5 separate regions of the Homo sapiens genome follow, and regions 1, 2, 3 and 4 are each reported to be linked to region 5. Evidence: microRNA targets listed by miRTarBase, many of them from high-throughput screens and not tested one by one. Region 5 holds a microRNA gene; each other region holds the end of a gene's coding sequence.

Region 1 (6,581 bases), not on the chromosome of region 5:
TTTGAGGTTCTGGGAAAGCTGAATGTGTTTGTTTGACTCCCTTTTAGAGAAAATTGAAGGCCGGAGTCAAGGAAATGACATCTTATGTTTATCACTGCCTGATAAACCGTAAGTTTAGCAGTGTTCCTTTTGAGGTGGATGTTTCTGTCAGGGTTTTTCTGAGTTCCAGAATGACTGCACATGTCCTTTCCCTAGGCCCCCACAGCCTCAGCAGTGGAATGTGCGGTCTCCCGCCAGGAATAAAGACACTCCAGCCTGCAGCAGGAGGTCCCTCCGAAAGACCCCTCTGAAAACAGCCAACTAAACAGCGCCTCCCACCAGTGTCCAGGCAGGCAGGAGCCCTTGAGGAAGCAGTCTCGTGTCCTCCGTGTGAAGGCAGCTGGATCACTTCCCGCAGTCCTTGGGCAGCGCTTTGCTGTGGAACACGAGAGCTCCTCCTCAGGGGCCTGGCACTCACCTTCTATTCTGTATGATGTATTTGGTTAAACACTGTCAAATAATAGAGATGTGCCAGATTTAGATTTTCTTACCCTAATCTGTTTAATATTGTAACTTTATTCCATTTGAAAGTGTCAAGCCCATTCAGATAAGCTATAATCTGGTCTTTAAGGAACACAACTTTAAAACTGCAGCTTTCTTTTATATAAATCAAGCCTCTGTTAACTTGAATTCCTTATAGTACATATTTTCCCATCTGTAATGACGAAATTTTGATTCTAATATTTTTTCTATTATTTATAAGTGCAAATTTTTTAAAAAAGTGTACAGCTTTCTAAAAGTAATAAAGGTTTAGCATAAATACAGCCTTCCAGTAGTCAATAGGATTTTTCTGTTTTTAGAACAGAGCTCTTATTGGTAATCATTTTAATTTTACATAAAGCATGTTTGTTTGTTAGAGGAATGAAACCAAATCTTCCCTATTAGAAAAAAGATGATTGTCTTGAAGGGCAGTTCATCTGTGCCCAGGCAGAGGCGGTGTGCTTTCCCTAACAGACATGAACAGCATCCCTTCTTGGGAAAAAATGGCTTTGCAGCCTTCCCCAGAGCAGCACTGCCGATTTGTGCAGCCCTCTGTTAAGGGCTGCTCCCATGATGGGGGAACAGCTTGAGTCTCTTCTGTTAGCACTAGTGGGTAAACTGAATGCTATTTTTGTTCAACAATATCCAGAAAGAAATGCAGTTGGTTTGTTTTTTAATCCCAGTATTACAAAAGCAAAAGTACAAAGTGATGATGTGCGTTGGTTGGTTTGGGGGATGGGATGCCACTGAGATCTGCCCACTGCCATCCCAAGTGGGAACCGCAACACAGGTGGGCTCGGTGGCGGAGAGGCGCAGCACTGCTCTTGAGCACACAGGCTGACCTCCTGCCCAGCACTGACTTCCCTGGTGGATGGGTGATTGATAGCATTTTTAGTGTGCATGCCTAACCACTGAAATGCTAGGAAGAAGAGACAAACCCAACGTAAGAGCAAATAACAAAGAATGAAGCAATGTTTGGGTTTTTTTGAAGCTTTTATAAATGAGGTTAAACAAATGCCAAATTACGGTGTGTTAGTACAAGTCTGTAGCATCTGTGTACAGCAACATCCATCCAAAGGCAGAATCACAGCCTCGTATCGGCCTCGAGTCTTGAGTCACATTCATATCTTAAAATACACGAGTATTCCTTTTCCGTCTAGTCTCAGTTATAGGCAGCTACTTCCCAGACTCTACTTTCACTTCTCTCTACTTTTTCAGACCTGGTTCCCATGGCACTAGTGTAGAAGGTTTTAGGGTATAAGAAGAGGGGGCAATAAGGCTACCCTATCACTATGACAACCAAGAAGGAGGCTGGAGCGTGAATCCCCAACGCTGAGGGTGGGGAGCCATCCCTCTCTACCAAGGTGGCAATGATGGAGGGAACTTGCATGCTAAGCATCCAGGATGCCATGCAGCAGACACCAGGGAGCACTGAGCCACTGCTGGAGCATTTCCTGCCTCTGCCAGGCGGCCTGCGGCAAAGTGTTTCACATAACTAAAAAAAGTCAACACAGTCTCATGTATGCAATTAAAAAAAAGCTGTCAAAGTATAAAAAACCCAAGACACTGGAAGCTGAAAGACAAGGTGAGTAGTGAGAGCCATTCTCCAGGCACACAGTGGAGTGCTCCTTCTCAGCAGCTCCTTGCTTTACAGCACTTCAGTCCTGAGTCCAGCACGGCAGGGCATGTGAGGCTGAGAACACCTGCTCTTGAAGAACACAGGCTTCTGAGTGATGTTGCTAATGTCCCCCCACAAATGGGAGCAGTGTCTCCGGCGGATGAAAAATTTAAAGTCAAAATTAGAAAACTGCTTTTGATTCAGGCGTTTCACTTTCCTCCCCGCCAGGCCTTTCACCTGGCTGCTCCACCTGACGTTCTTTAAAAGGCTGGACTGGCCGCCACTCCATCATGGTTTGTTTTGAAATGCGACAGAGCCTGTGGCGTCTGGGTGCTTTCTCTGTGGCAAAGAGGAACAGTGGGATCCATTTTCTTTTAAAAATGTTATTGTACTTGACAGACTTGATTTCGCAATTGCCTTTGGCCTTAGACAATCTTAACAAATAATTAAACAAACTTAAAAAAAAAAAATAGCATTGGGGGCCCTATTTTGTGAGCCATCCATAACCAAAAAGAGGTCTGTTACAGGAGCCCAAAGCTGGGACGCTACATGGAAGACACCAGTGTCCCTGCAGTGCCCACCTGAGAGCTGTGCTGGATGAAGCAAGGGCCACGTGAGTAAAGCTCACTGGGACACAGCCACTGCCAGGGCCCAAGGATGGCAGGGCCTCCTGGCAGACAGCGAGGCAACAGTGAGCTAGAGCGGGGGCGCCTGGCGCAACCCCAGGAGCTGACTGGCATCTGTGTATGTACATCTGAGGGCTTCTGGGTGGCCTCTGGGTACAGACTGTCCTAGTCATCTCAGGAAGAGGCAGTTCAAAGCTAACCTGAGAGGTTTCTTTTGAAGAGATGCAAACTGATTTCAACATTGCTTAACTGGAATTTTTAAAGGTTTCCTAAGCAACTATGGTCTGATGTGTAGACAGTATGAGTTCCCTTGTGAAAAAGGCTAAAACTTGTGTGAGAAAAGGAACATCACAGTAAACTTCCATGAGAGGATTCCTTGGGTAAAATACTCTTAATTATTGATATTTTCCAATTTAACACTAGTAGCTTGGAACTTCTACCTTAAGTTGAACTTTTTTAAAAAAATAGGTTATTTAACATTGTATGACAATATATTTACAGTTTAAATAGAAATTTTCTTTTCAATAATCAAAATACATCCTTAGCAAAAATTTAGATGTAAAATTTTATAAAATAAACAAGACCCATAGAAAAGCATATTTCAGTACCATTTCAGACTTAGCCTAAGACGAAGGTTTTCCTTAAATCCTGACACCCTGTTGGACAAGCAGGGTTCCTCAGGCAAGATCCCTCTTCCAGCAACCAATTTACCTTCCTGATTTTGGTTGTTTTTACAAAATGCTGATCCAAAAAGCTTCTCCACAATGGACACTGCAACACCGATCAGCAGAGCCTTTAAGAAGAAACTGCGGTGGTGTCTGTGGGCCGATGAAGTAAGGCTGCTGTGTAAGAAGCCTTTTCTGGGTTCCCGCCGGGATGCGCTGCTGGTGCTGTCCAGCCACCTCGCCATCTCACATGGTGCTGTCGTGGCTGCTGAACGACCAGTGGTGAACATGCTGGCTTCACAGGGCCCAGCACGGGCGTTTACGTGAGCAAACTCTTTAAGATCACCCTAATACTCATGCGGGAATCAGGCCAGAAACAGATTAGGAACCCAACTCAGTGAACGCACCCAGTTTCGCTTCCTTGTGGTTATATTTACCGGGTCCATCTTGAGGAAAATTCTTCTATTCATGTGGCTTGTTAGAGTAAGAAGAGTAGTGGTCAACTTTGGCCAAAACGAAAAGCTTCTGAATGAGTGTCTAGCTCTGTCCGAGTGCATCAGCTCTCGCTGCCTTGACAGGAGTTTCTAGCAGAGGTATGTGCACGTGCGCTCTGTGCGCTCTCAGCCACACCGCGGGTCTCAGATCACAAACGATGACTTGTGTCTGAAGTCGCCCTGCAAAGCCAACACACAGTTAGAGCCATCAAGGGGCCTGGTGGCAAGCAGGGAAAAACACGGAGTAAGTCTAACATGGGCTAAATACAGATGGAATAATCATTCTTAAAAAGTACCATCACTAGCGCTTGCAAAGCACAAATCCCATTAGTGTGTGTGTGTGTGTGTGTGTGTGTGTGTGTGTGTGTGTTACTGTGAAGGGGCTGAGGAGCTCAGGAGCTGCACAATCACTCAGAAATCTTCCCAGGAGACCCGTGTGGTTTCCAAGGGGGAATGTTGTTTTCCCTGCTGGGTACACCTAGGTTTCCAGGTTTACTAAATGATTACCTCCTCGTCAGTGCGGATGTAGTTAACTCCATCTGGTTTCCCTGGGTTCTTGTAACTATGAGGAGAAGAGAGCAGTTTAGCAACAGGGTTGTTATATTATTGCCAGCTTGAACTTCCCTTTTTTCACATAAGGCAGGCTCACCTTTCTCCATCCTGTTTATTGTTGATGAAGTAGCCACGTCTGTATGCACAGCAGATGCCCAACGTGATCAGGGCCAGTACAGCAAGGACAACCAGAACCCCCCCAATAATTCCGCCAATGTTCAGGTCATCTGAAGAAAAGGAGGTTTGGTGGAAGCCATGATACACACTATCTGTTATTTAAAAAGGCCCTGGCCCTGCTGTGCCTCCTTCCTTCACCCCAAACCCACTTGCCCCCTGCCCCCTCAGGCCTACCCCAGCTAGAAGAGAGAACACTTACAATCCTTCTAGCCTAGAACATATAGGACACCATAACTCCTAACTTCACACGTGAAAAGTACTGAGACTTCTACAGTTGAAATGCAGTCGCACTGAAAAGTGTATTAAAGTGGGCTTGGCACTGTAGGCTTAAAAATCCTCTGGCTGAATGCCTGAGATTACTTATGGAGGAAATGGTTATGAGGACAAGATTAGGAGCCAGGATCCCAAGAAGAAAAGAATCCCTAATTTCCAGGGCCTCCCTTTGTTGCAGATTGCTGCGGGGAAGAAAGGTAGCTTCAAGCCTTAAAGAATCTGTCTCAAAAAACAAACAAGTAAAGAATCCTAGGTAAGAACTAGAGCTTTGTCTCTGCCGGCTGCCTGACCTCCGATCTATAAGCCCTCTGAGAGGAAACCCCCTGGAACCCTTTTCTCATGTCTATACACTGGGCAAAGGCACTGGGTCACTTTCATATGGGGCTCTGGCAGCCGTTCCTTCAAGCAAGCGACACATGGAAAACTATGCAGGGAATTTATCAACAAGAGCCAAGTAACTTGGAAGTTTTAAAAAAATCTCCTTTATCCTAGTGTATTGGTTCTCAAAGATGAATGTACACTTAAAAATCAACTTGCAGGCCGGGCGCGGTGGCTCACGCCTGTAATCCCAGCACTTTGGGAGGCCGAGGTGGGCAGATCACGAGGTCAGAGATTCGAGACCATCCTGGCTAAGGTGGTGAAACCCCGTCTCTACTAGAAACACAAAAAATTGGCTGAGCGTGTTGGCAGGTGCCTGTAGTCCCAGCTACTCAGGAGGCTGAGGCAGGAGAAAGGTGTGAACCCGGGAGGCGGAGCTTGCAGTGAGCCGAGATTGTGCCACTGCACTCCAGCCTGGGTGACAGAGCGAGACTCCATCTCAAAAACAAAAAGTAAACTTGCAATCGTTTTTTTTTTTTTTTTTTTGAGACAGAGTCTTGCTCCGTCACCGTCACCCAGGCTGGAGTTCTGTGGTGCAATCTCGGCTCACTGCAAGCTCCGCCTCCCGGGTTCAAGGGATCCTTCTGCCTCAGCCTCCCAAGTTACTGGGACTACAGGCGCCTGCCACCACACCAGGCTAATTTTTGTATTTTTAGTAGACACAGAGTTTTGGCATGTTGGCCAGGCTGGTCTTGAACTCCTGACCTCAGGTGATCCACCCGCCTCAGCCTCCCAGAGTGCTAGGATTATAGTGTGAGCCACCACGCCTGGCATGCAATTTTGATGTTAAAATGTCAATTCCCAAGTTTCATCACTAAAAAGTCAATAGGCTAAAGTAGGTCTGGGGCAAAACTGCAGGAGAAAACAACCCTAGAGCAGAGTTTCTCAAACGTGACACATGAGAAGAATCCTTCGGAACGCTTGTCTCACACACAGACATTTCTAGCATATGTCTGAGGTGGGCTCGAATCTGTATGTGAAACAGTGGTCCCAAATGGGTATCACCAGGCAGTTTTGGAAAATGCTGCTCTGAGGAGAGCTCCAAATAGGGAGGAGGGAAGGATTCAAAAAATGCTCCTGGCTGGGCACAGTGGCTCATGCCTGTTAATCCCAGCACCTGGGGGAGGCCGAGGCAGGAGGATTGCTTGAGGCCAGGAGTTTGAGACCAGCCTGGGCAACACAGTGAGACCCCGTATCTACAAAAAATAAAATTAGCTGAGCATGGTGGTGTGTGCCTGTTGTTCCAGCTACTCAGGAGACTGAGGTGGGAGAATGGCTT
Region 2 (6,624 bases), not on the chromosome of region 5:
GCTAAACCCCATGCTCACATAAAATCCTACAGTAGGCATAACCATCCTATTTGACATTTAAGGTACAGAAAGTTTAACTAACATAGATAACTCCCCCCAAACTTGAGAATTTATGCATTCCCTTTAAACAGAACACACTTTTAGAATATCCACAAGCTTCCTAAGGGTCTAAAGATCCCACATTCACACTGACTTGGGCAGTGACAGAGCCCAGAGCAAACAGGGCCAGGCCAGCCCAAATCCAGTGACCTCCTCTTCACCTTCTTAAAAGAGACAGGAGAATCACTTGAACCCGGGAGGTGGAGGTTGTGGTGAGCCAAGATCGCGCCATTGTACTCCAGCCTGGGCAACAAGAGCAAGATTCTGCCTCAAAAAAAAAAAAAAAAAAGTCTGCCATGTGTATGGCACGTCTGAGCAATGGACTCTCCATGAGTCTGTAGGAGAGCTGGGTCTTACTAACCTAGCCAAGTGGTATGCAGCACCAACCATGAGCTACCGGGGCAAAGGGAGACATGACTCTAGTAGCCTTGCACCTCTACTGGGCTTACTTAGGGTAGGGGTCTTCGGGTCTAACCCATGCCTGGCCGGCCTGGTGGGTATGGTGTTCTCCATTGTAGAAGCCAAGCAGCCAGTCAACCTCTGCAAACCCAGCCCGTGCATGAATGAGGGCAGCTGCGTCCTGCAGAATGGGAGCTACCGCTGCAAGTGTCGGGATGGCTGGGAGGGCCCCCACTGCGAGAACCGTGAGTGGAGCTCTTGCTCTGTATGTGTGAGCCAGGGATGGTATTGCGAGTCCTGCCAAGTCCCACAAACTCAGCTGAAGGCAGGTTCTAAAACATTCGTTCAGTGGAAGAAATTATTCAGTCGTTTACCCACGAAACATTTAGTGAGTACCTCCTGCATCCCAGGCATTGTTCTCAGTGCAGGAACATAGCAGTAAACAAATGAATAAAACCTCTGCCCTCATGGAGCTTCCATTCTAATGGGAAGACAGACAATAAGCAAATAATACAACATGTGGTGTGGTAGACGGTGCTAAGCACCCCGGAGAAAGTCATGACAACTAGGAGGGAGGCCACAGTTAGGAGCACAGTAGATCCAGGGTACAGGGATGTAGACGGAGGCAGGGATGGGTAAATGCGGTGGTGGGAGCTGCTGGAAGCTCTTTTTGGGGTGCTATTTGCTCAGTAAAATGGGAGGAACAGCTAAGTGAGGACGAGGAGGAGGTGCTAGAGGTTTGAGAGAAAAGAAGTCATTGTCAAGGGTAACAGATTAGGACCTAGAGAGTGATCGTTGGGAGGCATTAGAGGTCCAACTATGGCTCCTGTTCATGAGTTTGAAGTTAGAACAGCCAGAAATCAGAAGACAAGTCCAGTCGGAGCCTTGGTTTTTTGGCCACGGGCAGAGGTTGGCTTCCTAAGGCCAGAGAGAAGCTCTGGAGGATAATCACATGGGGTCTCTAATCTGGCATCTTCTGCTGGGGGCGAGGTGGGTTGTAGAGTAAGAGCAGGACCTGAAGGGGTCCTCAGAGGCTGCTGGAGGGCTGAGAAGGGGATGCAGACACTCCTGTCCTCAGACTTCACTTCCTTCCCCAGGATTCTTGAGACGCCCCTGAGGCACATGGCTCCCGTGCAGGAGGGCAGCAGCCGTACCCCTCCCAGCAACTACAGAGAAGGCCTGGGCACTGAAATGGTGCCTACCTTCTGGAATGTCTGTGCCCCAGGTCCTTAGAATGTCTGCTTCCCGCCGTGGCCAGGACCACTATTCTCACTGAGGGAGGAGGATGTCCCAACTGCAGCCATGCTGCTTAGAGACAAGAAAGCAGCTGATGTCACCCACAAACGATGTTGTTGAAAAGTTTTGATGTGTAAGTAAATACCCACTTTCTGTACCTGCTGTGCCTTGTTGAGGCTATGTCATCTGCCACCTTTCCCTTGAGGATAAACAAGGGGTCCTGAAGACTTAAATTTAGCGGCCTGACGTTCCTTTGCACACAATCAATGCTCGCCAGAATGTTGTTGACACAGTAATGCCCAGCAGAGGCCTTTACTAGAGCATCCTTTGGACGGCGAAGGCCACGGCCTTTCAAGATGGAAAGCAGCAGCTTTTCCACTTCCCCAGAGACATTCTGGATGCATTTGCATTGAGTCTGAAAGGGGGCTTGAGGGACGTTTGTGACTTCTGGCGACTGCCTTTTGTGTGTGGAAGAGACTTGGAAAGGTCTCAGACTGAAATGTGACCAATTAACCAGCTTGTTTGATGATGGGGGAGGGGCTGAGTGTGCAATGGGCCCAGGTCTGGAGGGGCCACGTAAAATCGTTCTGAGTCGTGAGCAGTGTCCACCTGAAGGGTCTTCCTTTCAAAAGAGGCTGCGGCCAGAGACTGTGGCTCATGCCTGTAATCCCAGCACTTTGGAGGCTGAGGCAGGTGGATCACCCGAGGTCAGGAGTTTGAGACCAGCCTGGCCAACGTGGTGAAAGTTTGTCTTTACTAAAAATACAAAAGGTAGCCGGGGGTGGTGGTGGATGCCTATAATCCCAGCTACTCGGGAGGCTGAGACAGGAGAATGGCTTGAACCTGGGAGGCGGAAGTTACAGTGAGCCGAGATCTCACCACTGCACTCCAGCCTGGGCAACAAGAGTAAAAATCTGTCTCAAAAAGAAAAAAATGTACTTAGGAGGGGTTAATTGTGGCGTGTTTATGGAATTCTTTCCTTATTCTCCTTTTAGTGGGGCAAAGAGAAGTAAGATTCTTAAACTCAAAAATATAGGATAAAGAAACTTACAGAGATTTTGCTTTTTAAAGCATTGATCTTACGCTGTCTAGGTTTTAATTTTGTTTTGCTTTGCTTTTCTACACAGTTTTTAAAGAAATATTTCAAGAAATGTTGGTTATTTATTAAACAGGGATATTTGTACCTATGTGGCAAAGAGGCATATTTGGAATATTCTCTGGCAAACTAGATACTTACTTCCCTATCGCTGCAGTATTTAGGAATTACTTCTTCTCCTTGGTTGTGTTGTTTAGAGTTGGATTTTCTGTAGAAATCTTTCTAGAGCTCTGATGTGACTCCAGACACTTTATCGTTTTTCTTTTTTTTGAGACGGAGTTTTGCTCTTGTTGCCCAGGCTAGAGTGCAGTGGTACAATCTTGGCTCACTGCAACCTTTGCCTCCCAGGTTGAAGTGATTCTCATGCCTCAGCCTCTTGAGTAGCTGGGATTAGAGGCAGGTGCCACCATGCCTAGCTAATTTTTGTATTTTTAGTTAGAGACAGGGTTTCACCATGTTGGCCAGGCTAGTCTCGAACTTCTGACCTCAGGTGATCCCCCTGCCTTGGCCTCCCAAAGTTCTGGGATTACAGGGGTGAACCACTGTGCCTGGCCCATTTTTCTTTATAAATATTGTAACATAATGTTTTATAGACAAACATTCAAGGGTACTTTGGCTTTAAGAACTTCAGGATTTCTGGTGCTAGAAAAGCGCTTGAAGCAGTATCACCAAGATTTTAGATATTAAAAAGTCTGGTGTACCAGACATTGAGTCATAATCATCTATATTCAAGGGATACTTTCATTGATAACTTTGTTATTATGCTGCCCTTCACAGAAGACAACGTCCGGGGCAGGATCACATGCTCCCTAGCAGATGCTGATCAGTGATGTCATAGAAATTACATGAATGCATTGTCTTTAAATAGCAGTTTAACCATGTTATAATGTAGGCTTTTTGTCTTGTTCCGGGCTGGTATTTGGGTGCCCTGATTGAATTACTTGGATTTAAACAGCAAACTGTGGGCTCTCGACTTACATAGTAAGGGCCTTTACTGTTTCTTTGTAGGAAATGGGTTTCTCGCCTTTGAAACATTTTTTCCCCTTTTGTAGTGACAGTGCCACTAAATAGTTCAGCTTTTGTCAGTCCCCCAGGAAAGTGCTATCCTATGGCCTAACTAGCCAAGCCTTTTTTCTTTCATTTAAAAGAAATTAGCTTTAATTTTTACCTTTAATTACTTATTCAAATAAGACAGAAATATATTTTCCTTGCAATAATTAAAACATTGCATATAGGCCATAAATTTCCTTATTTTCTCTGAACGATCCTGATTCCAGTCATCTTGTTGAATACCCTAGTTCTAATAATTGACTCTTGCTTTTCTAGAGAAATATTTCCAAATGATGCTAGTTTTGTCTCTTCCTTTCAAAGTTGTATACCACTTCTTTTTCTTGTCATTTTGCATTGCCTGGGACCTCCAGAATAATGTTTCATGAAGTAGCATGTATCCATATCTGGTTCTTGACTTTTTCATCATAATAATTGTTTTCTATGGGTTACTTATCAGTTTAAGAATGCTTAATTCCTAGATGAACTAAGAGTGTTTATTACATGTTGAGATTTATGGTATGCTTTTTCTTCCTCAAGATAATGCATTTTTTGTATTATCTGTTAATGTGATAGGTTATCCATTTGTGTATTTTCAATCATTGAACAACCCTTGATTTTTTTGGATAAACTCTATTTGGTCATTATGCATCATTCTATAAACCCTGCTGAATTTTTCATTTGCCAACATCTTATTTCAGATTCTTTTAATCTGTGTCCAACAATGAGATTTGTTTTCTTTTGCAATTTGTTTTGAATTTTTGGTATCAGAGCTATACTAACCTTATAATGGAAAATACATATTTCTCAAACTTTTACACTGATATATTCATAGTATTTTTTTATAATTTGAAAAATCTTGTCAGTATCTGTATTAAGGCCTCCATTTCAGTTCTGCTATTTCATATTGCCTTAGGTTGTCTATTTGTCTCTTTAATGAACCCGATTTTGATTTTGTCATTTTTAAAATAAACACATTTATGCTATAAACTTCCTTAATTACTACTTAGGCAACCTTCCCAGTATTGGTATGTTTCTTTTTTCCCAAGAATTCTTTAGGAGTATATTTAACTTCTGGGAGGAGTACTGATTTTTCATTCACTTATATATGATCAATTTCTGCAGATGTTTCCTGTGTCTTTGGTATGTTGTTAACTGTACAACTAAAATTTGCTTTCAGCCTTATCTATGCTCTTTGATTCAAGGAGGCTGAGTTTCCTGCTAGGATCCCATCTTGTAGTTCAGTGTGTAAATAACCAAAACATTTCCTCCCTTGAGAACCCCCCAGGCCCTGCCCCAAGTCATTTCATGAACTGAGGAAAACTTCAAATACAATGAACATTTTATTTTAAAAAACCTAACTAACTCACCACTTGGTAAAAGGTCACCAAATGTTTATGAGAGAGGAAATAAGAATAAAAAAGACATTTAGTTCTCAGGAACAAGTGTTAGAGAACTGATACACAACCCTCCAGAAATGAGGCAGAGATAATAGATGAAATGTTTCAACCTGTGTTAAAAAAAAAAAAAAAAAAATGCCATCAGAGGAAAAGACAGGGGCAGCACAAGGAACAGCACTGCCAATTTTAAGAGGGCGATCACCCTAACCAAAAATCACCACTTTGTTCTTGGAAGGAGAATGAACATTAAACAGAACTTAAAATCAGAGACTATTTATATTAAATAACTCTTCCCTTAAAAATGGCCTGACCACAGCAATGAATCTGTAAACACAGAGTAATATTTTTCCTACAGTAAAGAGTCACTTTAATCTCAAAAGATACTTTTCACTGTTCTAAATGACAGGATTTTAAGCATTTTTTCCTATATATAATACAGCATCACTTAAAATTTTATTTAAAGACAGTTGATTCAGGCCTGCCTTGGACTGGAAAGAAGTCTTTAACTTAGTGGGATTAGTGCTTCAGCTTGGTCCCAAATATTTTCCCCATTATTGTTTCTCAAAACTCATGTCATAGATGGTTTTACAGATGATGGTTTTACAGATGATGTCAATGCTGTTTAAAATCACTGAAGACTGAGTTGGGCCTGGTAATATTGGAGAGAACTGAAGGCAAGGATGGTTTAATCCCCAACTGCTAAGTATTGGATAAGAGATGATGGCCAGGAGTTTAGGTCTTCTCACTCACCAAAGACACGTGACCCATAAGACAGGGCCCTGCTTCCTTGATTCATCTTCCACCAAAGTCTAAACAGGAGGTTTTCACTATTTAAAAATCTTAGTAAAGCAATTGATGACAACTTCAAAAAAGAAAGAAACACAGAACATCCCTAAATACAACGTCTTGTTTACATCCAATAGACTTAGGTCTCCAAAGAAGCCTCCTTTTTGTTGTATTATTTCCTTTGGCTCTGAAAAGGGACAGAGCCTCCTCTTAGCTGAAGCTCTCCATTCACAGTACCTCAGTCTTTGCTTTTTCTTCTAAACAGACTCACCCTTTCGCATAGTTTTTGCTTTAACAAAGCAGGATTGTCACCAAGGTCCACATTGACATGAGAGTCTTTAGATGAAGCTTGTTTTCTAACTTGCTCCTTTCTTCTCCCATTCCTAGGGTACCATTCAAATACCAGCACCCACCCCCCACCAAAAAGATAGTTAGTTATCCACTGTAGCAACCTTGATATACATAGAAAAAATGTGAGAAAAACTATTTTAGGCACAGAGGTGATAAATGTTTCAAACCCTGTGTGTTCATCACTGCTTAGAGTGCCTATTCAGAGATTTT
Region 3 (6,624 bases), not on the chromosome of region 5:
ACTTGTTGGCCATAACTGGAGTGTTTGCCTGGTGGTTTTCTGTTCTTTTTCATAGCTGGTAGGCAGGCCGTCTAAGAGAAAAGACCAAATAAATCAAAACGTAGGTTACAGATTGTAGAATAAGTAGATCAATAGCTGGTCATAATCCAGAAAATACGAAACCGTCCTTTCCTGGGCAGCAGATGTGTGCGGTCCTGCTAGCATATCAGTCTGTGATGTGGAGCCCCACAGGGCAGCAGCGAAGCTGACAGTGCCCTGTCCTTGTGGTGTTTCCAGCCTGGGAGGTCACTAGTGCTTCCTCTGGGTGCTCCCTGCGTGCCAGGCGTGAGTGCTTTGCATGCATTGAAGGGTTTCTTCTCCTCAGCAGCCACCTGAAGCAGGCACCGTGCCATCTGCATTTATGGATAAAGACACAGGCTTAGCGAGGCTGTCATTTGCTCACTAGCACAGCCAGCAGCACGGGACGGTGGAAATACGCAGGGATGTTTGGGGCAAGTTTTCTTCATGTCCTCTGTGTTGCCTGCCTGGCTTATAATGTGAATACACAATAGTTTTCTGAAGATTGAGCTGGGGATACCTTAGCATAAAATAAAATCCAGAAATATTCTGGAAATGTCATTACAGGCAATAGTTTTGCATGTTTATCTGTTAAATATATATATATTTAAAAAGCAATTGGACTGTCAGTTGGACTGTCGATAGCTTTGGAGGCAGGGAAAAGTTAGAGGAAGTAAGGGAGAACGGGTTAGGCGGGGTTTTTCTCTCTGGGACTTACAGTGCATCTAAAGGGTTCTCACAGAGCCGCCGCTATCAGTGTTTCCAGTAGACCCTAACGGAGGTGTCGCCATGACTCTCTTTCTCGCTCTTTCTTTCTCAGGAGTACTTCTTGCAAGCAGAGCTGACAAGCAACGTCTTAAAAACAGGCGTGGTGCGCTGCTGCGTGGGACAGTGCAACAATGCCATCCCTGTTGACACCGTCCTTACCATGAAGAAGCTGCCCATCACCTATGTACGTCTGCTGTCTGTGGAACTTAATTCAGCCATTTGCATTTTTTGCTTGTGAGCTCTGTGCTTATCTGGGTTGTAGGTGAGGAGATAAGAGAGAGCTGTGTGATCCTTTATTAGGGGCTTTTCATATGAGAGGCACAAGAGGTGTGTGGTCTGTCCCAGGGTCAGAGGTCAGGGCACGTGATGCTGCCTGGCTGTGCTGAAGCCGCAGGTCTGGGAGGCTGGGTTGTGATACACGCTTAGAGAGAGAGCTGTTCCCTGGGGTCCCAGCGCAGCTTTTCTTGGTTCTTTATCTTGACTGGATAAATGACTGTTTCTGAGCTCAGGGAATTTGGGGGTGTTGAGGCCACCTAGTTGGTGGTGCTGTGGGAGGTGTTACTCTGAGGATGTGCACCCCTCTGAAAACATCAGAATCCAAATGCGTTGTCCCTGGGCAGCTGTGATGATAACTCCATGCTTTTTGCTGGAAAATCCATGTTCTTTGGTTGTTCCCCTTAGCTCTCTCTCTTGTCCATCACCACAGAGCAACAGGAAGGAAAACAAGGGGGGCTACCTCTGCCACTCCTGTGCGGAGCAGCGCATCGGGCCCCTGGCGTTCCTGACAGCCTCCCCGGAGCAGGTGCGCGCCATGGAGCGCACTGTGGAGAACATCGTACTGCCCCGGCATGAGGCCCTGCTCTTCCTCGTCTTCTGAGGACAAGGCGCACGTTCTCCGCAGTGCAGAGCAGCTTGCCGAGGACCCCGCGTGAAGAAAGCCAGCGAGGGGGGCTTCTGCTCCCTGAGACTCTGGGTTCACCCACAGCACTTTCTGAGGAAGAGGACACCAGCCCAAGCTGGACCTGCCATTTCTCCACTCCCTACAGACAGCCAGTCTCCACTTGCCTCCCCTCTGGATGTATCTGGTCAGGGAAGTGGGGGATGTTCTTTTGATAAAAAAAAAAAAAAAAATTTATGTATTTAAACTTTTATTACAAGATTTCAATTAAACAGGCACCATAGCACTGGCATACCGCTGTGTGATGTCTGCGTCAGCACTGTCGTTCTGAACCTTCTCTTTTTCCAGCTTACTCTTTCCTACAGCACTGTCACTGTTCACAAGACACAGGAAGCAGAGTATGAGACGTGATGTCTTGGGTGGGAACTGAGGCATCAAAAATGAGACTTTGGCCGGGAGCAGTGGCTCACACCTGTAACCCCAGCACTGAATCCAGCCAAGGCAGGAGGACTGCTGGAGCCCAAGGTTGAGGCTGTGAGCCGTGGTCACCTCACAGCTCACTGTACTCCAGCCTGGGTGACAGCGGGACACTGTCTCAAATAACAATAATGTTTTAAGGAGGTCAGATAAATTACAAGGCTAACAGGATCATAATCTCAGCAAGAAATGACCCCAGATGGGCTGGACCACAGCGCCTGTGGGGCCTGGTGAGGAGGGAACGGATGCGAAGATCAGTGGTTCTCAAAGTGTGGTTCCAGCAAGCAGCGGCAACATCACCTGGGAACTTGTTAGAAATAAAAATGTTCAGTCCCCACACCAGGCCTACAGGATCAGAAACTCCAGGGTTGAGGCCCAGCTGTTCGTACATAACAAGCCTGACAAGTGATGCTCATGCATGCTAAGTTGGGAAACTTCTGCTCTTGATGTTTAGAAGGTAGAATCGGTCGGATTTCTGGAGTACTGGGATCATGATAGGGACACTCAGTGGTAGAGGTCATCTTCACTGAGACAGGGAAAATGGGAGCTATAGCAGGTTTGTGTAAACGCAGTGATCAGTTTGGTTTTCAGCATGTTGAGTGGAACCGTCTAGGAGGCTGTTGGGTGAACACATCTGTCCTGCAGCAAAGGGCCTGGCTGGACCTGGGGACTTTATAGAGTTGTCGGTGTGTAGGTGGTGGTGCAGTTTGAAGGGTTTCGCCGAGTTAATCCAGGAGAGTTTAGACAATGAGAAGAGCAGAGGGCCGAGAAGCAAAGCCGGCGGACACGAGGCTTGGGGTGAAGAGAGGAAGAGGGTTTAAGAAGAGCGACAGCTGATCCAGAGGAGCCTCGTGATGGAGCACCACTGAGCTCCGGAGAGGAGGGAGTTCAGGAAAAGGGGATCTTCAGCATCCAGTGCAGTAAATAGACCAAATAAACAAGGGTGGGCAGGTGTTTAACCAGCACTATCAAGGTCAGTTGACATTAGCTGATCAGTTTCAGTTAGGTGAGAAGCCGACCACTGTGGCCTAAAATGTGAGTGAAAAATTTGAGGGCTAAGAAGTATGTGTTCATTTATGGTTTCTTTCTGAAGCCATACTGTAAGGGCAGTAAAAGTTGTGTGTGTGTGTATGTGTGTGTGTGTTTTAACCCTTAAGGGCAAAGACAACAGGAAGGAGGCAGCAGTGATCCTGGAGGCATCAGGATCATCAAACATCTGAAGATGACCCGGCCCCTAAGATGAAGGCTAGAGGTCAAAACCAAAGAATCAACTTGGAGCAAACTGTCTGTACAGGGAGAAGAAAACATCTAAATATCTTTAACACATTCAGAGAATGGAGGAGGTAGTGCATTCCATAGAGTAGCAGGATAGATATGTATAAAATAATATTTGGGGCCGGGCGCATTGGCTCACGCCTGTAATCCCAGCACTTTGGGAGGCTGAGGCGGGTGGATCATCTGAGATCAGGATTTCGAGACCAGCCTGGGCCAACATGGTGAAACCCTGTACTAAAAATACAAAAATTAGCCGGGTGTAGTGGTATGTGCCTGTAATCCCAGCTACTCAGGAGGCTGAGGCAGGAGGATCTCTTGAACCTGGGACGCAGAGTAAGACTTCGTCTCAAAAAATAAAAATAAAATAAAATTTTGGAGCAAAAAATATGAAAAGAAACCCAGTAGAACTGTTAAAATAATAAGTTGAGAATCTAGAAAGTAGAGCAAAAACAAAGATTGAGAAGTAGTTAGAGGCTGGACGTGGTGGCTCATGCCTGTAATCCCAGCACTTTGGAAGGCTGAGTCAGGTGGATCGCTTTGAGCTCAGGACTTCAAGACCAGCCTGGCCAACATGGCAAAACCCATCTACAAAAAATGACCTGGGTGTGGTGGTGCACGATTGTGATCCCAGCTACTCAGGAGGCTGAGGCTGGAGAATGGCTTGAGCCCGGGAGGTGGAGGTTGCAGTGAGCTGAGATTGTGCCACCACACTCCAGCCTGGGTGACACAGCGAGAGCCTGTCTCAAAAAAAAAAAAAAAAGAAAAAAAAAACTAGGGAACCAATTTAAGAAGTTGAGCATCTGTGAATGGGAATTGCAGGAAGAGAAAATGGACAACAGAGTTAAGGAATTTTTAAATTTAATTTTTTTTCAGACGGAGTCTCTCTCTGCTGCCCAGGCTGGAGTGCAGTGACTTGATCTCGGCTCACTGCAACCTCCACCTCCTGGGTTCAAGCGATTCTCATGCCTCAGCCTCTTGAGTAGCTGGGACTACAGGCACATGCCACCATGCCCGGCTAATTTTTTGTATTTTTAGTAGAGATGGGGTTTCACTGTGTTGGCCAGGATGGTCTCGATTTTCTGACCTCGTGATCTGCCCACCTCGGCCTCCCAAAGTGCTGGGATTACAGGCGTGAGCCACCGCACCTGGCCGAAACATTTTTTTTAATTATGAAAATTACCTGAAACTGATGGTAAGGGTTTCTGGATTGAAATGACTCATTAAATGCCCAGGACAATGGGTGAAAATAGGCCCACATTGGCCGGGCGTGGTGGCTCACACCTGTGATCACAGCACTTTGGGAAGCTGAGGTGGGAGGATTGTTTGAGCCCAGGAGTTCAAGACCAACCTGGGCCACATAGGCAGACCCCATCTCTACAAAAAGTATAAAAAATTAGGTGTGGTGGCGCATGCCTTGTTCCCAGCTACTTGGGAGGCTGGGGCAGGAGGATGGCTTGAGCCTGGGAGGTTGAGGCTGCTGTGAGCCATGATTGCACCACTGACCACCACAGCCTGGGTGACAGAGCGCAGGACGTAGCCTGGGGGGAAAAAGGCAATGATTAGTCCTCTGGAAGGCGACAGGTTGTGTAGGAGAGAACTGTAATTGACCCCCCCCACCACCAGCTCAGTGGAGTGTACCTGCTTTCATGGCCTTCATAAGGGTGGGCGTGTTCTGCAGGTAGGAGCTGTGTGCACATGTGGAGTGAACGAGCCGAATCTTAGCCTCTGCGGCAGGAAGTCAGTCACAGTGCCTGAAACTCAAACATGGAAGCAGAAGCCCATGTGAGCCCATCATTTAGAGATATCTTGGAGATGCATAACACACACCGAGACACTCAGCAGAAAGATTTCTAAAAGTTTCCTTTTGGGAGGGGGAACGGGCAGGTGGAGGAGCTTTTTGGTAGGTGTCTTACATAACTGTTGGCTCTAAACTATGTGTCTGTATGATAGAACCATAAAATACCAGTGGGAGGTGAAGATACGGACACCACGTAGACTAGTTCTCAGAAAGCAAGGCTGGCAAGAGGCAAGAAGTGGATAGGGGATGACGTGGCCTTAGGGAGGGGTTTTTGCTTTTAAAACGAGAGAGGTTTGTGCAGGGTTATGTGTTGAGAGGAAGCAAATTCAGAGAGGAGAGATGGAAGCCAGATGAGAGGGATTGGGACGGGAGAGATGAAGGAGAAAGGGGTACGTTGTAAGTGGTTAGGGAGGAAGTTTAGGTTGCTCTCACCCAATAATTTTCTGGTTTTTTTGAGACAGGGTCTTACTCTGTCACTCAGGCTGGAGTGCAGTGGTGCAGTGACAGTTCACTGTAGCCTTGACCTCCAGGCCCAGGTGACCCTCCCACCTCAGCCCCTCAAGTAGCTGGGACTACAGGTGCATGCCACCATGCCCGGCTAATTTTTGCTTATTTTTTGTAGAGATGAGGTGTCGCTCTGTTGCCCAGGCTGGTCTGAAACTCCTGGGCTCAAGCTGTCCACCTGCCTCAGTCTCCCAAAGTGCTGGGTTTAGCGTTTGGGATGGACATAGAAGGGAATGGAGTGGAAGGTGACGGAAAACACAGGTGTGCCGGGCAGCACCCTCCCAGTTGACATCAAACACCATCCTTTTAGCTGGTATTTTTCCTTTAGCAGCCCAGGCATGAGGGCAGAGACGTCGCATGGTGGACTCAGACACAGCTTAATAAACTTAAGGCAGTGCAGCACCCCCGTGGGACCTTCCTGCCTGGGAAGCTGGTCACTGTCACGCTGCCTGCCCAGCTTCCGTCCTGTAGTGGCATTTGGTCTGTGTCTGGGAGCAACTCACTGTATCACAAAGGGACTTTGACACCCCTAGAATCAGACTATTAGCAATTTAACATGTTTTTCAAGTCTGATCCTTGCCCTTCAGTCCTTCCTAGTCACCCTGAACCCCTGGCTTTAGCAATGTGGGGTACACCGAGAGCCTGGAAGCTGATCACTCTACATTTGCAGTGAGTGGGTGCGGTAGAGACGTCTGAACCGAGGCAGGCAGGGTTCCTCCAGCTCCTTGCCCAGACATGAAGACAGTGCTACACGCACGCCCCTGGCCAAGGCACCTCTGCACAGCTGGGCTGGTGTGGGGGGCAGGGCTCCCTTAGCCGGCAGGGGCTCTCCCTCTGCCTGGCCTAC
Region 4 (6,230 bases), not on the chromosome of region 5:
CCCCGTTGAGGAGCACTGCTGGGGAGCCGCTGGCTGCCAGGAAGCTCCCGTTCACCAGGATGGAGGAGGAAGCCGGGCAAGGCGCGGGAGGGCCGGTCCCTGCCAGGAATATGGAGCCCTGGGCAGCGGCCTCGGCGGACACTGGGGCCGCCCCTCTCTCCAGGTCCTCAGGACTTCGGCTGGACTCGTCCTCAGTCGTGGGATTCCCATCAGACTCGCTGGCCGGAGAAATGGCTGTCAGCTGGGGTCCCTTAGCCTGTGGGGCCTCCCGCATAGCCAGCCAGCTGCTCCCCCACCTTTCCCTGGCCCAAGTTTCGGTGGATCATTCCAGGGGTTATGACGCCTCTCTGAGACCACTCCAAACTCCAGGGCCTTTTGCAAGCCCTGCGTGGACACCACTGCAGAGAAGCGCTGGGGAGGGAAGAGGCCCTTGCTCTCCCCCACCTCGGCCTCGGGTCCCCAGAGGCTGAGCTCCCAGGTTGCCCTAAAAGTTCCTTGGTTGGGCGGAAAGCGGGCGAGTGGCCTGGAGAGAGGGAGCAGCAGCCGCCAGCCCAGTTCCCGGTGCCCTCCCCGCGGGGCGTCAGAGAAGGGAGAGGCCGGCGCTCAGGGTGGGAGGAGAAGGGTTTGGGTTACAGGGAAACCGGAGCTGGGAAAGGTTCACGTTTCACAACAAAGGCAGAAGACGGACCACGCCGTCCGGGCCCGGAGGGAGTGTGGGGGCGGGTGGGTAAGAGTAACGGTCAGTGAAGAAAGGGGGCTGGGAGGCAGCCCCTACGCGGAGTGGAGTGGCCACAGGCCCTGTCCTTTTTCCTCAGTCCCTCTAGTGCCCCCCGCAGTGTGATTCCCCAACACCGATGGGATTTGGGAAGGAGCTCGGAATGGAGCCGCTGGAAGAGGAGACGCGTGCGGGGAGAGGGCCCGGGCGGGTGCCTGTCCCGTCCACACTTAGTCCCCGCGCCCCGCGGGCGCCTGAGATTGTGAGCTGGTCCCGGGAGATGTCCGAGGACCTCGGCGCGCCGGCCCCAGCAGTGGGCACGGGGGAAGAGGGCTGGTGGACGGGATGTCCCCGGGAGAGCTGGACTTGCGCCGCCCGAGGCCCCTCACCTCTTGCAGGGCGCGCCGCCTCCGGCCCCGGTCCGGTCGCGCTGTCGCCGGTTCTTGAACCAGTTGCTGACCTGCGTGAGCGACAGGCCGGTGAGTGTGGCCAGGCGGCGCTTCTCGTCCGGCGTGGGGTAGCGGTTGCCGCGGTAGCAGGCCTTGAGCGCTGCGCGGGAGCGCTCCTTGAAGCAGTAGACTGTCTCCTCGCCGTCCCAGATGGTCTTGGGCAGCGGGAACTTCTTGCGCAGTCGATACTTGTCCACTGCGCCAAGCGCGCGGCCGCGGGCCCGCTCGGCCTCATGGTAGCGCGCGCGCAGGTAGAGGTCCTGCAGGAAGGCGTGGTGGGCGGCGGGGAAGGGGCGGCTCTCGAGTAGCCGGTAGAGCTCGGCGTACTCGCCCCGCTGGAAGGCCACCAGGGCCCGCGCGCGCAACACCGGGTCGCTGCCACGTAGGCGCTCGGCCGGGGGCAGTGCGCCCAGGAAGCGGCTCAAGCGGCCGGCGTGGCCCGCCTGGAGCAGCGCCTCGCAGACGCACGCCACCTGCTCGGGCGAGAAGCGGAGGCCCGTGGGCGGTTCGGAAGCGGCCTCGGGGGGCGACCCGGGGACGCCCGGGGATCCCGGGCCCTCAGCTCCCGCAGCCGCTGCGCCCGCCCCGGCCCCGGCCGCCGCCGCCGCCTCACCCTCGGCCGCCTGCAAAGTCTGCAAGAGCTGGCGCGCTTCCTCCTCCTCCTCTTCGGTCGCCGCCGCCGCCGCCACCGCCTCCCCCCCAGCCGCCGGCCCCGCGCTCGGCTCCGCAGGCAAGGTAGCCATGTTTTGCAACTTTGGGAAGTTCCTCCCTCCCTCTCTTCCTCCCTCGGGCTTTCCCCAGCCTCCTCCCCCACCTGTCCCCCCTTTTCGCCCCCACTCCCCGCTCTTCTCGATCTTCTTTCTGGCCGACCCTGCGCCCCACGCCGGGAAGGCGAGATCCAGCTCTCCACTCGGGTCTCTGTCCCCTTGTGTGTGTCCGTCCCCCTCCCGTCTGTCTGTGATTCTCCCTTTGTTTTCCCTCCGCCTCTGGCCGCGCTTTCTGCCTCCCCCCAGCGTGTGCTTCTGGCTCAGGGCCTCAGTTTCCCCATCGGGACAACGCAGAAGGTAACGGGCCGTCCAGGAGGACTAAGGGCGCGAAGCCTCCGCCCCGAGACTGAGCTTCTGCACGCCTCCGTCTCCAGGGTCCTCTGCAGGCCCCCACATTCCCCATCTCGGCCTGCGCTCCGCCCCTCGGAATTCCCGGCTCCGCAGGGGGGGCGGGTCTGGCCGGGAGGAGGGGCGGGGAACGGGCTAGAAAGTTTGCAGCAACTTTTCTCGAGCTTGCGTCCCAGGAGCGGATGCGCGTGGCGTGCGCAGGCGCAGTGGAAGGAGGATGGCCGCGCGCGCTGCCAGCCCAGCCCCCTCTTCTCGACGCTCGGTGGCACAGCTGGGCCACAGCTGGGCGGGGGCGGTGCCTCCGGGTGGCCCGCTCGCCCTCCTATTGGCCGGACGCCAAAGCCCCGCCCCGTGGCTTTTCCTCCCCCAACCCTGATTCGGCCGCTTCGCATCCCGCTAGCTCCTCCCAGACCTTCGGCCGCCTCCACACGCCTCCGGATTGGCCCGCTGCGGAGCCTCCGGCCCACAACGCAAACCGCGGACACTGTGGAGTCCAGAGCTTTGGGCAGATGGAGGGCCTTTTATTCGCGAGGGTCGGGGGTGGGGGTCCTAGGTGGGGACAGACAATAAATACCGAGGAATGTCGGGGTCTCAGTGCATCCAAAACGTGGATTGGGGTTGTTGGGGGTCCTGTAGCCTGTCAGCGAGTCGGAGGACGAGGTCAATAAATATCCAAACCGCCGAAGCGGGCGGAGCCGGCTGGGGCTCCGAGAGCAGCGCAAGTGAGGAGGGGGGCGCGGGATCCCCGAAAAAGCGGGTTTGGCAAAAGCAAATTTCCCGAGTAAGCAGGCAGAGATCGCGCCAGACGCTCCCCAGAGCAGGGCGTCATGCACAAGAAAGCTTTGCACTTTGCGAACCAACGATAGGTGGGGGTGCGTGGAGGATGGAACACGGACGGCCCGGCTTGCTGCCTTCCCAGGCCTGCAGTTTGCCCATCCACGTCAGGGCCTCAGCCTGGCCGAAAGAAAGAAATGGTCTGTGATCCCCCCAGCAGCAGCAGCAGCAGCAGCAGCAGCAGCAGCAGCAGCAGCAGCAGCAGCAGCAGCAGCATTCCCGGCTACAAGGACCCTTCGAGCCCCGTTCGCCGGCCGCGGACCCGGCCCCTCCCTCCCCGGCCGCTAGGGGGCGGGCCCGGATCACAGGACTGGAGCTGGGCGGAGACCCACGCTCGGAGCGGTTGTGAACTGGCAGGCGGTGGGCGCGGCTTCTGTGCCGTGCCCCGGGCACTCAGTCTTCCAACGGGGCCCCGGAGTCGAAGACAGTTCTAGGGTTCAGGGAGCGCGGGCGGCTCCTGGGCGGCGCCAGACTGCGGTGAGTTGGCCGGCGTGGGCCACCAACCCAATGCAGCCCAGGGCGGCGGCACGAGACAGAACAACGGCGAACAGGAGCAGGGAAAGCGCCTCCGATAGGCCAGGCCTAGGGACCTGCGGGGAGAGGGCGAGGTCAACACCCGGCATGGGCCTCTGATTGGCTCCTGGGACTCGCCCCGCCTACGCCCATAGGTGGGCCCGCACTCTTCCCTGCGCCCCGCCCCCGCCCCAACAGCCTACAGCTGTTGTTAGTCCACTCGCACGCCTCGAATCCCGTCCGAACTCGTCATTGGCTGCTTCCTAGCGGCCTGTGTTGATTGGCTGCCCGAAGATCCGCCCTCCTGCCGTGGGCCCAGCCCCGCAAATGCGCAGCTAAGCGGGTGGCAAGGGGCGGGTGGAGCGCGGGGCGCGACGGCGGAGGGGGGCGTGGGCAGCCGGACGTACCCTGGCAGGGAGCAGCAGGTGGCGGCGGTGCATGGGGCCTGGCCCCACCAGCGGGCACTGGCCCACAGCCACGGCCGGGGGGCCATCTAGCTGGAGAGAGAAGGGACAGGTGACCCGATCGGAGCCCAGCCCAGCCCTCAGCGGTGGGGCGAGAGACAGCGAGGGGAATCGAGGTTGGGGAGGTTATCTAGGGAGATCCCGGAGGGAATCTGGTGAGGCCTGAACGGAGGGAGATCTGGGGCTGAATAAAGGGCTTCTGCCCTCTAAAGTCGCAAAGACGTAGGGTGAGCCCTATATCTGGACGGGGAGACCAGGAGCCAGGGAGGGGATCTGCAGAATGGGCAGCAGGTCTGAGGCAGGGGAAAGAGAGGGGTCTTACATGGGAAGGTGGATCCGTGGCCCGGGGACTGGGGACCCCCGTGACAGCTGGAAGGAGAAGAAAGAGGCATAGGGCGCGTGGAGGGGCGAAGGAGGGCGGTGGCGCGGCGTGCCCCAGCGTGGGTCCCTTCCCTCCTCCAGGTGTCTATACACGCCCCGCGGAGCAGACGGCCCACCTCCTCCCGGTCCTCCGGGGAAGGGGACACATGAGGGACTCACCTGTGGCTCCCTCTGCCTGCAGCAACTCCATCCGCTCCTGCAACTGCCGGACGTGTGCCTCTAGGTCCCGGTTCCGAGCCTCTGCCTCGCGTAGTTGACTGTGGGGAGGTAAGGACGGTGAGTCCGTCCGGGCCGGACGAGAGGGGATGCCAAGGGTTGCCACCGGCCCGCATCCCGGCCCCGGCCCCGGCCCCGATCCCGACCTGGCGAAGTTCTGGTTGTCCGTGCGGATGGCCTCCATCTCCCGGCTCAGGCTCTGCCGGGTGAGCACCTCCTCCTCCAGGGCTTCCTGGAGCTCCCGCAGCGTCACCTCGGCCTCAGCCTCTGCCGCAGGGACAGCCGCTGGAACTGCCACTTCAGCCTGTGTATGGGGACCAGGCTTAAGGCTGCCTGTGGCTCCTGGAAGACTCAGGACTTGGGCACTGGTTCCAGGCTAGGAATCCTTGTTTATCCCCTACTCCTCCGTCCCCTCAACATTTCTGGAATCCCCATAGCTCCTGCAATGATCCAAGCCCCCTCCCTTCCCTACCTCCCTCAGCCCCATCCCTGAGTCTGGTCCTCTAAATCTACACAGGGACCAGAGGGCTGGTGCTCAAACACTAACACAACCTATGTCCCTCTGCTGCTCAAAATCCCTCCAGCTCCCTAATGCCCTCACGACAAAAGGCCTTGCTGGGTTTTGTTTCCTGCTGGCCTCTCCAGCCTTCTCAGGAATGATTCAGCCAAACTACCTTTCAGGAACAAATCAGGATTCCCACCTGCCCAAGGCCTTTGCCCTGGAGGCTCTCGCCTGACCACTTGGCACCTTTCCTTCCATGGCTTGTTTCTCCTTCACCAGCGCTCAGCTCAAAGATCGACTTCTCAGATCCCCAGCAACACACACACCCTTACTTAATGCCCCACTGTAACTACAGAGACCGTCCCATGTCTGAAGTAACCTCGTCTCTCCGTGGTTTCTGTCTGCTTCTGTTCAGGAAGTCCCTAGAGGGCTCTACAGTGCACGCCACCCGGGAAGCCCTCACCTTTTCTCTCCCAATTGTCCCTGACGGACCCCCTCCCCTCCACCAACTTACTGTTTCATCCTGTGGGGACACCGAGGGCTCCAGGCTGGGCGCTTGCACGTGTGGCTCAAGCAGCTGCTCGGCCTCCAGTTCCATGGGTGTGGGGCCTGGGACCTCACTGTCCCTGGGGAGAGGAGGAGGGAGTGGGGAGGGAGACAGAATGCTGATTCTCTGGTGGAGAACCAGAACTTCTGGCCTGTGGGTAGGGGCAGCTGCTTCCAAGACCTCCTGATTTGAGGAAGGGGAGCAGCAGAGCGAAGAGAACAGAGTCCCAGGTAGGCCAATAGCCCCTCCTCTGCTTAGGAAAAGCCCTGCCCCTCTCCTGGCCTTGGGCCCCTGGGAGCTGCTCTTTCTAAACCTTCTGCAGGGACTTGGGGTCCAGACCCCCATGTTCTAGGGTCAGCTCATCTCCTCCCTTGACATGTGACCGCTGCAGACCCCTCTTCTCAGGGCCTCAGGACAGGGAGGCCGACCTGATGGGGAGACTGCTTGGCTCTGGCCACCTCCACAGATGTGGTCCTAAGACTGGGCATGGGACC
Region 5 (4,000 bases):
TCCTTATTTAAAAAGCTTCAGTGCCTTTATATAATCTCAGAATAAAGTGTAAGACCTTTTTACATGACATATGACGGGTGAGACTCTGTAATCTGGCCTCTGTCTCCCTGTCTAGGCTCATCTCTCTTCCCTACTTGCTTTTCATTTTATTGTCACATAATACTGATCTGTTCATGGGTCTCTGTACCTGCTGTTCTCTTACTTGCCTTTGTAACCCCGCAAATTCTGCCCTTCTACCTGAGATAACTGTATCCTTATTTGCTTGCTTAACTGTATGTTATCCTTTAAAAGCAACAAATGTGTCACTTCCTCCAAAGAGCATTCCCTGATACTCCACCCCTCCACCATAAGATGAGTTAGGTACCTCTTCTAGTACTGTGTAATTCCCTATCCTTATCTTTTATCACTGGACTTTGCTATTGTCTTAAAATTGTCTCTGCCTGAATCTTCAAAAATTGTCTCTGTCTGAATCTTGTCCTTTAGGGCAAAACATTTTTATTCTTACCTCTTAGAACAGTGCTTGGCACATGGTTGTTATGCTATACATTTATGTTGAACAAATGAACTACCAATTTGCTAGCAGGTCATTATCATATTAGACATTGTAAGAGTCTAAGGCAGTATCAGTGGAGACGGAGAGAAGAGGCTAGTTTCAGGAAGTATTTATAAAGCGGAATCAAAATGTTATAGCAGACTAGATATAAAAAGAGATTTGAGGTAGGAAAACTGCTGATTATGCCATTGCCTGACATAGGGATTCCAAGGGAGTGGGAGCAGGTGAGGAGCCATGATAAACTCAGTTTGCAGCATGCTAGTTTTAAAAAATGCTTGGCTAATAATACTATATTATTTCCTTGAGATTTGGTAAGAGCAGGTATTAAGTTCCTCATGACACCCACAGATGGTAATGATGGGTGGCAATAGATGTGTTAATTCATTTGTGGTAATCATTACACAGTGTATATCAAGTCATTACATTATACACATTGACTATATACAATTTTTGTTTTTCAATTAAGTATTTATTAAAAGGGAGCTTGGAGTCTATCCAGAAAGTAGTAGATAATAGACAATTACAAATATGGATACAGAACTTAACAGAAGTCAGAGCCTAAAACTATAGATTTGAAGTTATTTGCCTGCTAATGGTGTTTAGAACTAGTAGAGTGTTTTTCACCCAAGAAAAATGAGTGGGAAGCATTTGAAATGGTTTTATGGATGAGGTAGCATTTGAACTAATGTGTTTGAGAAAGCTCAGAAGGGCATAGTGACTAGGGAAAATTATTTTGTTTTCTTCAGTGATTGAGAATCTTCTAATTTCCTTAGTACATTTTCCTTTAAATTATTCCATATGTGATTTCTGCTTTCTTTATCATAAAATTAGTTGGTATATTCATTCTGAAGATCACAGAGATTGAATACTTGTTTTAGTGTTATTTTTCCTCTTCTGGGCCAAATTCCAGATTTTGAGTTTTCATCTTACTATTTTCTTCCTCATCATCATTTTGCTATCTACACACTTATATCGTTGAACCAATAACTGAATAACTTGTGATTTGTTGATTTAGAAAGCTTAGCTCTAGAAATGTTCTGTCTGGCTTGAGTGTTTTGTATGGTCAGCTTGGTCATTGTGTCCCTGTAACTGGAGACACCTGTTACGTTCCTCCTCAAGTTACTATTTATGAGGCTCAGCAAGGCCCTCAACTAAATCTTACGTGGTTTAATCTTTCCTGCCTTCCTCAGGTTTATGTGGGAGGGGTATTTTCATGACTCTGGCAGCACTGTTTATTTTGCTGCTTTCTGTTAATTAAATGTCATCTAATTTTTTATATGAATCTTTATAATACAAAGACTAAATTTAGATCTAAAATCAATGTTTTTTTATTCATTGTTTTCCCAATTATGCTGAATATATGACAGTAAGTTAAATGTCTGAGAGGAAAACATATCTTATCACTTGCTTAAACATGTCTTGATTTGAGCAGTTTTGCTTAAGCCTAGAGTCTTAGTACTTCAGCGTGATATTATCAGGTGAGTCATGTTATTATCATCTACCAGACTGAGACTTGGGCATATGTGACCATCACCTCAATTTCTGCAGAAACAAATATTTTATCTGTACCAATAGCCCTTGATTTTTCTCCACCTAGCACAACATAAGAGATACAACAGTAGCAGTGGCACGCTTGACAGTGATTTTTTTCCTGGGATTTGGGAGCTTATCAGAATCTCCAGGGGTACTTTATAATTTCAAAAAGTCCCCCAGGTGTGATTCTGATTTGCTTCCTTTTCCTCCTCCTGCTCTGAGAATCACCGTTTCTTTAGAAGCATCAGCATAAATAGGCACATGTATTAGTATCTTCTCCTGGTATGGTTGAGCTCCCTAACTCCCAAACCCCCATACTTGCCTTTTGAGTGATCTCCATTAGTTCTTTCTAATATCATAACTTTTGAAACAAATGTCTGTCACCAAAGGTATGGCTACCACCAAAACAACCTCGTTCATGTTTAGAAGCCTACAAAGCTTGAGGGCCAGGTTTAATAATACAGTTTAAATGGGAACCCTTTTTAAAGACTTACACTCAGGTCTGAGATTTATATTAACACTGACCCCCTCCCCCAGTTTTATTTTAACATTTTATGATGAACATTTTCAAACTTATACTGACATGGAAGGAATTTCAAGAGAACACCTGTATATCCACCTCCTGGATTCTATAACATTTTAATAAACTTGTTCAGTCACACGTCTACCCAAATATTAACCCCTCTATCCATGTATCGAGTCATCTTTTTAATGCATTTGACTGTGAATTGCAGATGTCAGTAAAATTTCCCCTAAATACTTCCAGCTTGCATATTATTACCTGGAGCTCAATATTTGTTAAGTGTTTTTCTTTTGATGTAAATTTATATACAGTGAAGGGTCCAAATCTTAAGTGCTTCTTAACTGAGTTTTAACAAATGATAAATCTGTATAACCTAAGCCCCTATCAAGATATAGAAATTTAACAACCCCTTTTTTCTGCCCAGTTATTTCCTCTTGACTTTACATAGTCTCTGAATTAAAGGTAAGAAAAAGATTTGTCAGTGCTTACAGGACAAATAGAGATTGATGTTTAATGACAGCAGATTTCTCTTCTCAATTGCCTGAAGCACTTTGTGTTTCAAATGGTATATGAGTGTTTTAAAATAGAAGACTGAGTGAATTACTTATATTTTCAGTTTTTAAAACATTATTTTGGAGAATATCAGATGTAAATACTTCAGATCTATTTTCTTAAGTATTTTATAAGGCAAGAGCTCTAGTTCAATGAAATATGAGGAGGTATGTATAGAAACAGAAGTGTAGAAGAGAAAGAAGGTGGAGATGAGATGGAAAAAAATCATGTAAATATTAACGTAATATTACAAATGTTATATTAAAAGGTGGTTAATTGGTTAAAATATCTATTATGTACATGTAACATCACTAGACATCATAGACTATCCTTACAACAGTGGGATGCCATTTATTAAAAAATACCAGCATATTATAATCTGCCTTTAGGAAATACAAATTAAATTCCTCTCACTATTGGTCTTGAGTGTTAGTCATTTTATTTTTAATGCCTTTATTCCTGGAAAATATCACTTATATGGCTTATTTTTAAAGTGAATGAACAGATTTTAACTTATACCAGTATATTTTACAGTATGCTTTTGGAATTAATTTGCTTGCATCTTATGAGGGGCAACACATAAGTTCATTTCTAATAAAATAATTCTGTTCCCCAAAGGAGAAGCTGTGACACAAATAAATTGATATTTCCATAATCAAAAGATATAGCAAACACACAGTCATTTGCATATAGTTCCTGAAATATTGCATACTGGCTTTGTCAATGCTGGTAAGTCCATTTCAAGGATGTTGCCCTTAGTCCATTAGTTTGGATAATGAGCCCTATAAAGTACATTTATAACTTGTGGCACTGCAAGGAGATGGATTCTAATTTTCATC

Evidence for each region. The annotated mature microRNA hsa-miR-361-3p reads UCCCCCAGGUGUGAUUCUGAUUU and lies in region 5 at 2,259-2,281, shown strand. An mRNA with a match to its seed (bases 2 to 7 or 8) in the 3' UTR can be bound and repressed. Matches are read on the target gene's strand: a 7mer-m8 pairs with bases 2 to 8, a 7mer-A1 pairs with bases 2 to 7 and ends in A, and an 8mer does both.
Region 1: the mRNA of NCAPD3 is a reported target of hsa-miR-361-3p. Seed matches in the 3' UTR shown: 7mer-A1 at 1,094-1,100 and 7mer-A1 at 1,249-1,255.
Region 2: the mRNA of VWA2 is a reported target of hsa-miR-361-3p. Seed matches in the 3' UTR shown: 7mer-A1 at 2,264-2,270.
Region 3: the mRNA of FBH1 is a reported target of hsa-miR-361-3p. Seed matches in the 3' UTR shown: 7mer-A1 at 1,921-1,927.
Region 4: the mRNA of DMPK is a reported target of hsa-miR-361-3p. Seed matches in the 3' UTR shown: 7mer-m8 at 3,264-3,270.

The regions. Positions count from the first base shown.
Region 1 is chr11:134,146,667-134,153,247 of GRCh38, reverse strand. NCAPD3 (non-SMC condensin II complex subunit D3) reads left to right here. Exons shown (of 35, transcript NM_015261.3): 34 at 48-108; 35 at 196-3,135. The coding sequence ends at 304. It overlaps JAM3 (junctional adhesion molecule 3), which reads right to left. Exons shown (of 9, transcript NM_032801.5): 7 at 4,572-4,701; 8 at 4,430-4,484; 9 at 1,247-4,102. The coding sequence ends at 4,067. It overlaps SNORD153 (small nucleolar RNA, C/D box 153), which reads left to right and starts at 1,885; the gene lies at 1,885-1,960.
Region 2 is chr10:114,289,623-114,296,246 of GRCh38, forward strand. It overlaps VWA2 (von Willebrand factor A domain containing 2), which reads left to right. Exons shown (of 14, transcript NM_001272046.2): 13 at 618-743; 14 at 1,596-4,867. The coding sequence ends at 1,615. It overlaps AFAP1L2 (actin filament associated protein 1 like 2), which reads right to left. Exons shown (of 19, transcript NM_001001936.3): 19 at 5,202-6,446. The coding sequence ends at 6,420. Among named protein-coding and RNA genes, the nearest start is that of VWA2, 54 kb to the left of the region's middle.
Region 3 is chr10:5,935,579-5,942,202 of GRCh38, forward strand. FBH1 (F-box DNA helicase 1) reads left to right here. Exons shown (of 21, transcript NM_178150.3): 20 at 878-1,009; 21 at 1,532-2,015. The coding sequence ends at 1,702. It overlaps LOC105376384 (a long non-coding RNA gene), which reads right to left. Exons shown (of 2, transcript NR_188180.1): 2 at 1,473-1,931. Among named protein-coding and RNA genes, the nearest start is that of IL15RA, 39 kb to the right of the region's middle.
Region 4 is chr19:45,766,938-45,773,167 of GRCh38, forward strand. It overlaps DMPK (DM1 protein kinase), which reads right to left. Exons shown (of 15, transcript NM_004409.5): 10 at 5,704-5,815; 11 at 4,834-4,991; 12 at 4,631-4,728; 13 at 4,413-4,459; 14 at 4,034-4,123; 15 at 2,780-3,703. The coding sequence ends at 3,551. It overlaps SIX5 (SIX homeobox 5), which reads right to left and starts at 2,315. Exons shown (of 3, transcript NM_175875.5): 1 at 1,105-2,315; 2 at 1-218. The coding sequence starts at 1,907. DM1-AS (DM1 locus antisense RNA) reads left to right here and starts at 859. Exons shown (of 2, transcript NR_147193.1): 1 at 859-1,194; 2 at 4,553-4,946. RefSeq lists enhancers at 34-669, 734-1,293, 2,785-2,864, 3,025-3,134, 3,575-3,654 and 1 more and silencers at 1,035-1,164, 1,615-1,834, 2,195-2,734, 2,586-2,770, 3,295-3,454 and 1 more.
Region 5 is chrX:85,901,922-85,905,921 of GRCh38, reverse strand. MIR361 (microRNA 361) reads left to right here and starts at 2,215; the gene lies at 2,215-2,286. All of the region lies in intron 9 of CHM (CHM Rab escort protein), which reads left to right.